3 separate regions of the Homo sapiens genome follow, and regions 2 and 3 are each linked to region 1. The links come from fine-mapping of genetic effects on gene expression. Tissue or cell type: fibroblasts. Region 1 holds a variant in brackets; each other region holds the start of a gene. All regions are shown on one strand. Distances are between the middles of the regions.

What was found. PIP is the estimated chance that this variant, and not a neighbour inherited with it, causes the effect.
Region 2: GALNT14 starts here. The variant in region 1 is fine-mapped to the expression of GALNT14 in fibroblasts (GTEx, PIP above 0.99).
Region 3: XDH starts here. The variant in region 1 is fine-mapped to the expression of XDH in fibroblasts (GTEx, PIP above 0.99).

Annotation. Positions count from the first base shown.
Region 1 is chr2:31,383,515-31,386,272 of GRCh38, reverse strand. It overlaps XDH (xanthine dehydrogenase), which reads left to right. Exons shown (of 36, transcript NM_000379.4): 10 at 2,426-2,518. Among named protein-coding and RNA genes, the nearest start is that of XDH, 30 kb to the left of the region's middle. RefSeq lists an enhancer at 2,705-2,758. The variant C/T (reference allele first, on the strand shown) is at 1,221.
Region 2 is chr2:31,137,041-31,139,540 of GRCh38, reverse strand. GALNT14 (polypeptide N-acetylgalactosaminyltransferase 14) reads left to right here and starts at 1,101. Exons shown (of 15, transcript NM_024572.4): 1 at 1,101-1,583. The coding sequence starts at 1,455.
Region 3 is chr2:31,413,643-31,416,142 of GRCh38, reverse strand. It overlaps XDH (xanthine dehydrogenase), which reads left to right and starts at 1,401. Exons shown (of 36, transcript NM_000379.4): 1 at 1,401-1,518. The coding sequence starts at 1,477.

The DNA.
Region 1 (2,758 bases):
GAAATCCCTGGACACTCCAGTTCCTGCAAAGGCCCCTAGCTGTGGAGTCCCACAGGCCTGGCTCAGCCCCTTGCTGGATGTGTGACCTCAGAAAAGTTGCTTGTCCTCATCTACCCTCATTTTCTGTTTTTTATATGGGGATACTAACAACTCCTTGAAGGATTGTTTTGGGTGTGAAATGAGATCCTTGCATGTAGTTGACTTCTCTCCACAAACATTTACAGAGCACCGAGCATGAGCCAGGTACTCTGGAAGGGGCTTGGGATACAAAGCTCAATTGGACATGGTTCCTTGCCTTCAAGGGCCTTCTAGTCTAAGGGAGGAGGAACTAATTTAAGCAAAGTGTCTAGGCCAGTGGCTGATGGACACTAGAGGTTCCATAAATGTCGCTTTTGACCCCACCACCCCACTTTTTCTGGGGGAGGATGTGATAAGGTAAAGAAGAGGAGAGCTCCAGGTGTGACTGTGTTTGTGTTGCCTATGACCATGGCCACCTGCCCTGTCAGTGCTACCACCTAGGACGTGAGGCCTGGAATAGTTGAACAGGCTGGGAGACTCAGAATATGCACCTCTCAGCCCCAGTGCTGTAAGAGATGGGGAGAGGTTCCCAGGTCCCTGCTAATCTCTGTCGATTTCTAAACCTGGCATGGCCTATTTCTACTTTGCTGGATCCCAAGCCTAGTGAGGATCTAAGGAGGAGACCGTGGGACAGCTGAGGACCTCTGCTGTGGAGGGGCATGCTCTCCTTCTAAGCAGTCAGGTCCTGGCTCTGGTTCCTGAAGGAGCTGCCAAGCCCTGAGTTCTGGTTGGCTCCTCAGCCACAGAGAGGAGAGCCTGGCTTGGGTCAGTGCTGATGGAGTCAGAATGGACGCCTCCCTCGTGCGCACATATACATAAGATAGAGTCCCCAACTGTGGTTTTGTGACACACTGAGGCAGCAGGGTGGGCTGAGACACACCTCAAGAAATGTGATCTTGATGGCCATGGCTCAACAGGACTCATGGCTCATGTAGCTCAGGTGTAGCTTGATTTAAGGTGGCTGGGGGAATCTTAGGAGGTCCTTCTTTTTTTTTCCTCAAAGACAGGGTCTCACTCTGTTGCCCAGGCTGAAATACAGTGGTGCAATGTCACCATAGCTCACCTCAAACTCATGGGCTCATGTGGTCCCCCACCCCAGCCTCAAGGGGATCATTTCACACTTGCATGCTCCCTGCCATGAG[C/T]CATCCAATGTCCTGGGCCCAGTTGGATTCCAAGAGAAATGAATAACAAAGATTACCTAAGTTCCACAATTAGAAATGATTTCTCAAGACCATTTCCTTCTGCGCCACTCCCTTCTCTCTTATACATACCCCAATAGCATAGTCACCTCCAGTCAACGCAGAGTGTTGGGGGAAGGCAGACAAAGAGAAAACCTTAGTAACGTAGAACTTGCTGCTTCAATCTGTGTTCTTTGTCCTGGAAGCTGATATTCAAAAGGGGCTGGTATTCAGGTGCTTCTAGGATTTCTGAAGGGAGCTTTGAAGATTCTGGAATCTGGGGATCCACAAAGCCTAGGGCCCCCTTCAGAAATCCTAAACAGCACCTGGGGGGAAGGGGGGGCAAAGAGGTCACAGGTATTTCTTTTTTAACCTTTTCCATCTATACACTGTTGGCAGGGCTGGGAGAGGTGCTGAGCCAACTGGGTCTAAGGAACAGAGGCACACTTGTTTAACAGAGGCTTCTGACTCATTTAGTCAGGAAGGCCAGAAACCACACACAGATGTGTGGCCCCGCAAAGCCAGACAACTTGAAGAACTCAGGCAGATAGTGGGAACTGGAGGACAGATTTGAAGTTTTCCCTCCCATTTTCCTTTTTTGTTTTAATGTTAAACTTTCATGTTTTTATTACGATTATACCCCAACACGAATAATCATTCCAGTACTGAAATTTGGTTATTCTTAGCTGTGTGATTTGGGCAAGAAACTTAACTTTTCTGTGCCTCAGCTTCTTCATCTATAAACAGAAAAATCATAGTACCTCATAGGGTTGTTGTGAGCATTAATTAAGTTAAAATAGGGAAAGTGCTTAGAAGGGTTCCTGACATACCTTAATTTCCTGTGTTTTCTAATGTACACAAACACACACACACACACACACACACACACACACACACTAGAGTGAATTCAAACTCATTTCATTTGAATTCAGGTAGGTTTTTTGAGAGGGAAAGAAAGACCTAGTTTTGGGCTGACAGTCCAAAGACTGCATCTAATCCCACCCCTGGTCTACTGAGTTTCCTATTCCCAGACACCTACAGTCACCAGAGAGCATATTATGATTGTGGATATGTCATATATCCTGTGTGTAATGGTGAGAAAAGCTGCTAAGGCCTGCCCTGGTGATACAACAATGGGCCTACAACTTCAGCTTCTTGTTTCTCTCTAGGCATTGAGATGAAGTTCAAGAATATGCTGTTTCCTATGATTGTCTGCCCAGCCTGGATCCCTGAGCTGAATTCGGTAGAACATGGACCCGACGGTAAGAGGAGGTTCACTCCAAGCTTATGGAGGGGCTGTGAGGCTGGGGATAGGTTACAAGGTGGGTGGCAGGTATCAGGGTGGTCTCCCCACTGGCTCTGGCTGCCCCCTGCTTCTCCTGGGGCTCACCTTGCACAGGGAAAGGCGGGAGGAGACCCCATTCATTGCTGAAACATCCATGGTAGGGTGCCAGTGGGCAAGAGGCTGCGGGATCTTCAATCATTTTTCTCAATTCTGGCTA
Region 2 (2,500 bases), 250 kb after region 1:
CAGATAACACCAGCACCTTGCATTCAGCTTTCACCACTACTCATTTGCTTGTCAGAGGAGGTATTTTCCCTCCATTTTACAGATGAGGAATCGAAGACTGGGAGAAGGTAAATGACTTACCCAAGACTCACACAGTGAGTGTGACAGCTAGGTCAGTACTCTCTGGTCAGTGATCTGGCCGTGATTCCAGCCTACTTGAGCCTACATGGGAATTGGAGTTAGAATTTGCTTTGCTTCTAGATCCAAGCGGTTTTAATCTGCAAGTGGGAGGGGGATACAATTCCCAAAGGCCCTTGGGAAAAGGGGCTTTTGAAAGATCACCCTCTGCACCCAGTATCCTCCTGCCCAGGGTCACTTTCCAAGAATCCCAAGTGGTTGTTCCAACTTTGGACCTCTTTTCTTGCAAGCACAAAGCCCTGATGCTTACAGGGAGAGAAAACCTTTATGGGAGATAATTGCGCCTTAATTTTTTAAAGGATATCTTTAAAGTTAAAATTAGACCAGCTCAGCTTTCCTTCCGTTAAGCAGAAAAAGTTACCAGGCACCTGCAGGCAGGCATAGAAACACCCTGGGGAGTTGGCTGACCGCGGCCTTGGCCCTCAGTAGCCAGGCAAGTGAACCGCGGGTTTGGGGCAGCAGCCCTGCCGGCGCCCTGGAATCCCAGCCTTGGCTGTGGTAGGACGAGCACATTGGGGGTGGGACCCCGGCTTCAGCGCCACGTGCAGCCCCCGCGATGAGCGGGAAAGTCCTCCCAGGCACAGCGCCGCCTGGCGAGGGCCGGCCCTTGGGTCCCAGCTGGCAGCTGGGGGTGGCGGGCATCCCGAGTGCACCGCTCCCGCCCCGCCCCGCCTTGCCCCAACCCACGATGGTCTGGGAGCTGCGCCCAGGGCTTGGCGCTGGCGGCCCCGCAACAGCACCGAGCGTTTCGGTCGGCGGGCGGCGGTAGCGCCCCCTCTCAGAGCCCCGCTCACTCCCACCTGGGCTCGCTCCGAGTCGGCCTGTCTGTCGGGCCCGCCCTCCCCGCTCACTCCCTCCGCCCTCGTGCTCCTCCCGGGGTGCTTGGCACAGCCTCGGATTCCTCCCTCTCGCTGCTCGAGTCAGTTTCCCTATCGGCGGCAGCGGGCAAGGCGGCGGCGGCGGCGGCGGCAGCCGCGGTGGCGGCGTGGGGAACATCTCGGCAGCCACCGCGCTTCTCCCGCTGGAGCGGGCGTCCAGCTTGGCTGCCCTCGGTCCTTCCCTGCCACGTTTCGGGTCGCCCTGCACCCCCCACCCAGGCTCGCTTCTCTTCGAAGCGGGAAGGGCGCCTTGCAGGATCCTGCCGCCCCTCCAACCGGATCCTGGGTCTAGAGCTCCCCAGAGCGAGGCGCTCGCCAGGACTCCTGCCCCGCCAACCCTGACCGCCGGGGGGTGCCCCCGGGACGTAGCGCCGCGGAGAGGAAGCGGCAAAGGGGACCATGCGGCGCCTGACTCGTCGGCTGGTTCTGCCAGTCTTCGGGGTGCTCTGGATCACGGTGCTGCTGTTCTTCTGGGTAACCAAGAGGAAGTTGGAGGTGCCGACGGGACCTGAAGTGCAGACCCCTAAGGTAGGCGGCTTGCCGGCGCGCTGGCGCTGAGCGGTGGCTTGCGGGAGGGCGCGCAGCCCGCGTGCCGGGTTTGCGGGCTCCCGGGAAACCAGGGCGAGGGTCTGGGTGCTGCGAGCAGGTAACAGCCGCCGGATGTGGCTACCATGTGATGTTTCTGGATTTTAAAACGCTCGGGGGCATCTCCGGACCCGCGGTGTGCATGAGTGGCAGTGGGTGTGGGTGGTGGGCGCGCGCTCGCCTGCGGAGCGGGGCTCCCAACTTGAGCTGCGCGCGAGGGTCCCGGGGCGGAGGGGGCTCTGCGGACGGGCGGCCCAGGGGCTGGCGGTCTCCGGGCGCTGCCAGAGAGTCGCCGGCGGTCGGGTCGGGCCAGCGCCCGGGCGAAGTGTGGCGGCTGCGCTGACCTCCTTCCCGCAGCTGCCAGGCCCGACCTGGGGAGGCCGGAGGCCGGGTGCGCCGCGCGCGCCTGTGCGTTGCGGGCGAGCGCCTTGCAGCCTCCCGGGCGGCTGCCACCCCTGTTCTCTAACTGTTCCCGACCCTCTCAGCTGCATTGGAAGTTGAATGTGCCCAGAACACCACGAAAGAGCCTGTAAAAACAGACGCCTTGGTATTGGCGGGGAGTTGAGGAAATGGGAATCCAAGTGGCTTTTCCAACTCCTGCTCAGTCAGTTCCTGTGAGGGAGCCAGAAGGTTCCCCCTATAGGCTCACTCTTACCTTCAGATTCAGAGCCCTGTAGGGGGAAAGGGAAAACTTCCCCATGGCTCTCCGAAGGTTCACTGAAAATCAGTTGACAAAAGGCAGATCAATAGGAGAAAAGGCATAATAATTTATTTGATCATAGTTTTTCGTGACATGGTAGCCTTCCGTTTTCTCTTCACAGATTTGGCCCGGGGACACGGAAGGAGGCCTCTGGGGGATT
Region 3 (2,500 bases), 30 kb before region 1:
CCAACCATCCCAGTTTGCCCTGGACTGAAGGATTTACTAGGATCTCTGAGGCATTTGTCAGGGATTCAAGGCTAAAACTAGGATAGTCCAGGGCAAACTGGGATATTTGGTCAACCAACAAGTAAAGTTTCATCTCCTGGTTAAATTAAGGCTGTGGTGAGAGGGGGCATTGTGTTGATTGTGTGGTTGTCCTGTCAGTCTTCAGTTTCTCTAAGCTGTTGCTATATCAAGTACATCTGCCTAATACTCCTTTCTTCCCCCTCAGGTAGCCTGCTAGGGTTGTAGGGGAGGTGTCTTACTTAAGGAAGGCTGGCTGAGCCACTGTATGGGTCATTACAGGACAGAAGAAGACCAGAGTGAATGCTGGTCTCTGTGTGTTTTTTTTTTTTTTTTTTTTTTTTTTTTTGCGTGTGTGTGTGTGTTGAACTAAAGAACTGGTAGGGGCAGTTGGGAGGGTGCTGGACTGCAGAGAGCCCTTTAGTGCTGCTCCAGTGGACGTGCACATCTGTGTTTCCACTGAGAGTTAATGGATATTGGATGGGGAAAGGTTTTCAGCTATGTGTTACTGTAGCCTATGACTATGTGGTATGAGCATTTTAATTTATTTGGTGTTTTGAAATACTTTTATGAGTTACTCTGACAACTTGTCAAGGATATTTTCCTGAGAGAAACAAATAAAAGACAAATCTCAAAAATAGTTTGCTATTAGGATTTTATTTGTTGAGATGTTGAAGATGTCTTTTCAACAGTGATACATGTTTTGGTTCTTTGCAAATTTACAAGGCACTCCCAAAATGTCATTTGTCCCTCATTCTTCTATTCTTGATATCATTCTATGATCCTGTACAGGATGAAAGCAACTGAGTTCTGAAGGTAGTAAGTAACATGCTGAGGTCAAATGCCAGGATTTGAGTCAGGTTCATGGGGCTCCATGTCCTGTGACCTCTCTGCTCCACCAGGCTGTGAAAGAATGACTCTTGCATTCATGCAGTCAGTCTGTGTTGCTGTAAACCTGAATGGTAAAATGACAAATGTAGACACAGAGGGTGTGAATCAGCTCTATTAGCAGTGACTCTGAGAATAGTCCTTTCCCTCCTCTGTCTTCCCCTTCTCTGTCTTGCAGCAAGTGGGAGGACGAAGCAGGTTTCATAAGAGCAGCGCCCAAGACCCACAGTCGCCTAGTGCCAAGTCAACAACCTTACTGATATCTGGATGTAGTTTCCTGTGCTCTTTGACACAGGTGTGGAGATTGTAATTTGCTGTGTGTGATTGTTTGCACTTCCTTGATTATGTAAACCAGTGGCTTTTGCCAAGAACTCTTCATGCCCTGAAGCTCTGAGCTGGTTCCCTCCCATTGGTGGACCTTATTTCATTTTATTGGGAGGCGTAACTTTCAGGTCACAGAGCAGTGATAACTACCTGCCAGTGTCTCTTAGGAGTGAGGTACCTGGAGTTCGGGGACCCCAACCTGTGACAATGACAGCAGACAAATTGGTTTTCTTTGTGAATGGCAGAAAGGTAAGTAGGAGCTGACCTTTGGTTTTGTGTCCCTTCTCCCTGGGAGGGGAAATGTGTCCTCTGGCAGAGCCATATCTTGTTCTCTGTCTTTCCTGTCCCCTCTTACTTGTTCTGTCTTTCTCTCTCTCGCTTTAAAGGTGTCGCTGCATTTTGGTAACATTAGGGAAGAAGACCTTCTCGGGGCTAGAGCACAGACAAGATACTCAGAGGCCAAAGAATGAGGGAGAGAGAGGCAAGCAGAGAGGCATCTGTGAGCTAGCTGCCAACTCTCTGCAGTAGTGGAGATTGGCACAGAATGAGAAAGGGGAGTTGAGTTCTAGGTGAGATTTGAGGTCATCACCACACTTCTATTTCTGTCTTTAATCAAATATATCCTAAAATTTACGTTGCTCTCTTTACAGAGAGAAGGAACAGGAATGTGTTTTCCTGCTTTTATCAGGATATAAGATGTACGCAGCCTTTGATTCTAATATATTATATATATAGGTTTAACAGCCAGTCCTGATTCACTGTGAGGTGACATATACTGACACCTTGTGGCAAACCACAATTTTTTTTTCATAAAGGGCATCTCCTGCATTCCCCCCACTCCCCACCCACACACAGTGAGTTCTACATGTAAGCTGCAAATCTGTTACCTACTTGAATTTACCTTATTGGTACACAGGGACTTAGGGAAGGTGACATGGGTACCAGCCCTTGGACAAGAGTGAGAATCTTTGCAAATTTTAATGTGGTGCAGAGAGAGAGGGGGCAAGCATATTACATGGTCACTAGCCTCCATTTGCCCTCCTACAACACTGCTGAGATGCTCATACCTGTTCAACTTCCCACTTAGGAATGAAAAGGATAGTAAAAGAGTCCCATAGTTGCACATTGTAACTTACTGTGTGGACTGTGCGTGATGAATGTGCCCAAAGTGTCCCCCAAAGAAGGGCAATTTTATTTGTCTTTCTATATTGGCATTTTTGCATTGAGTTGA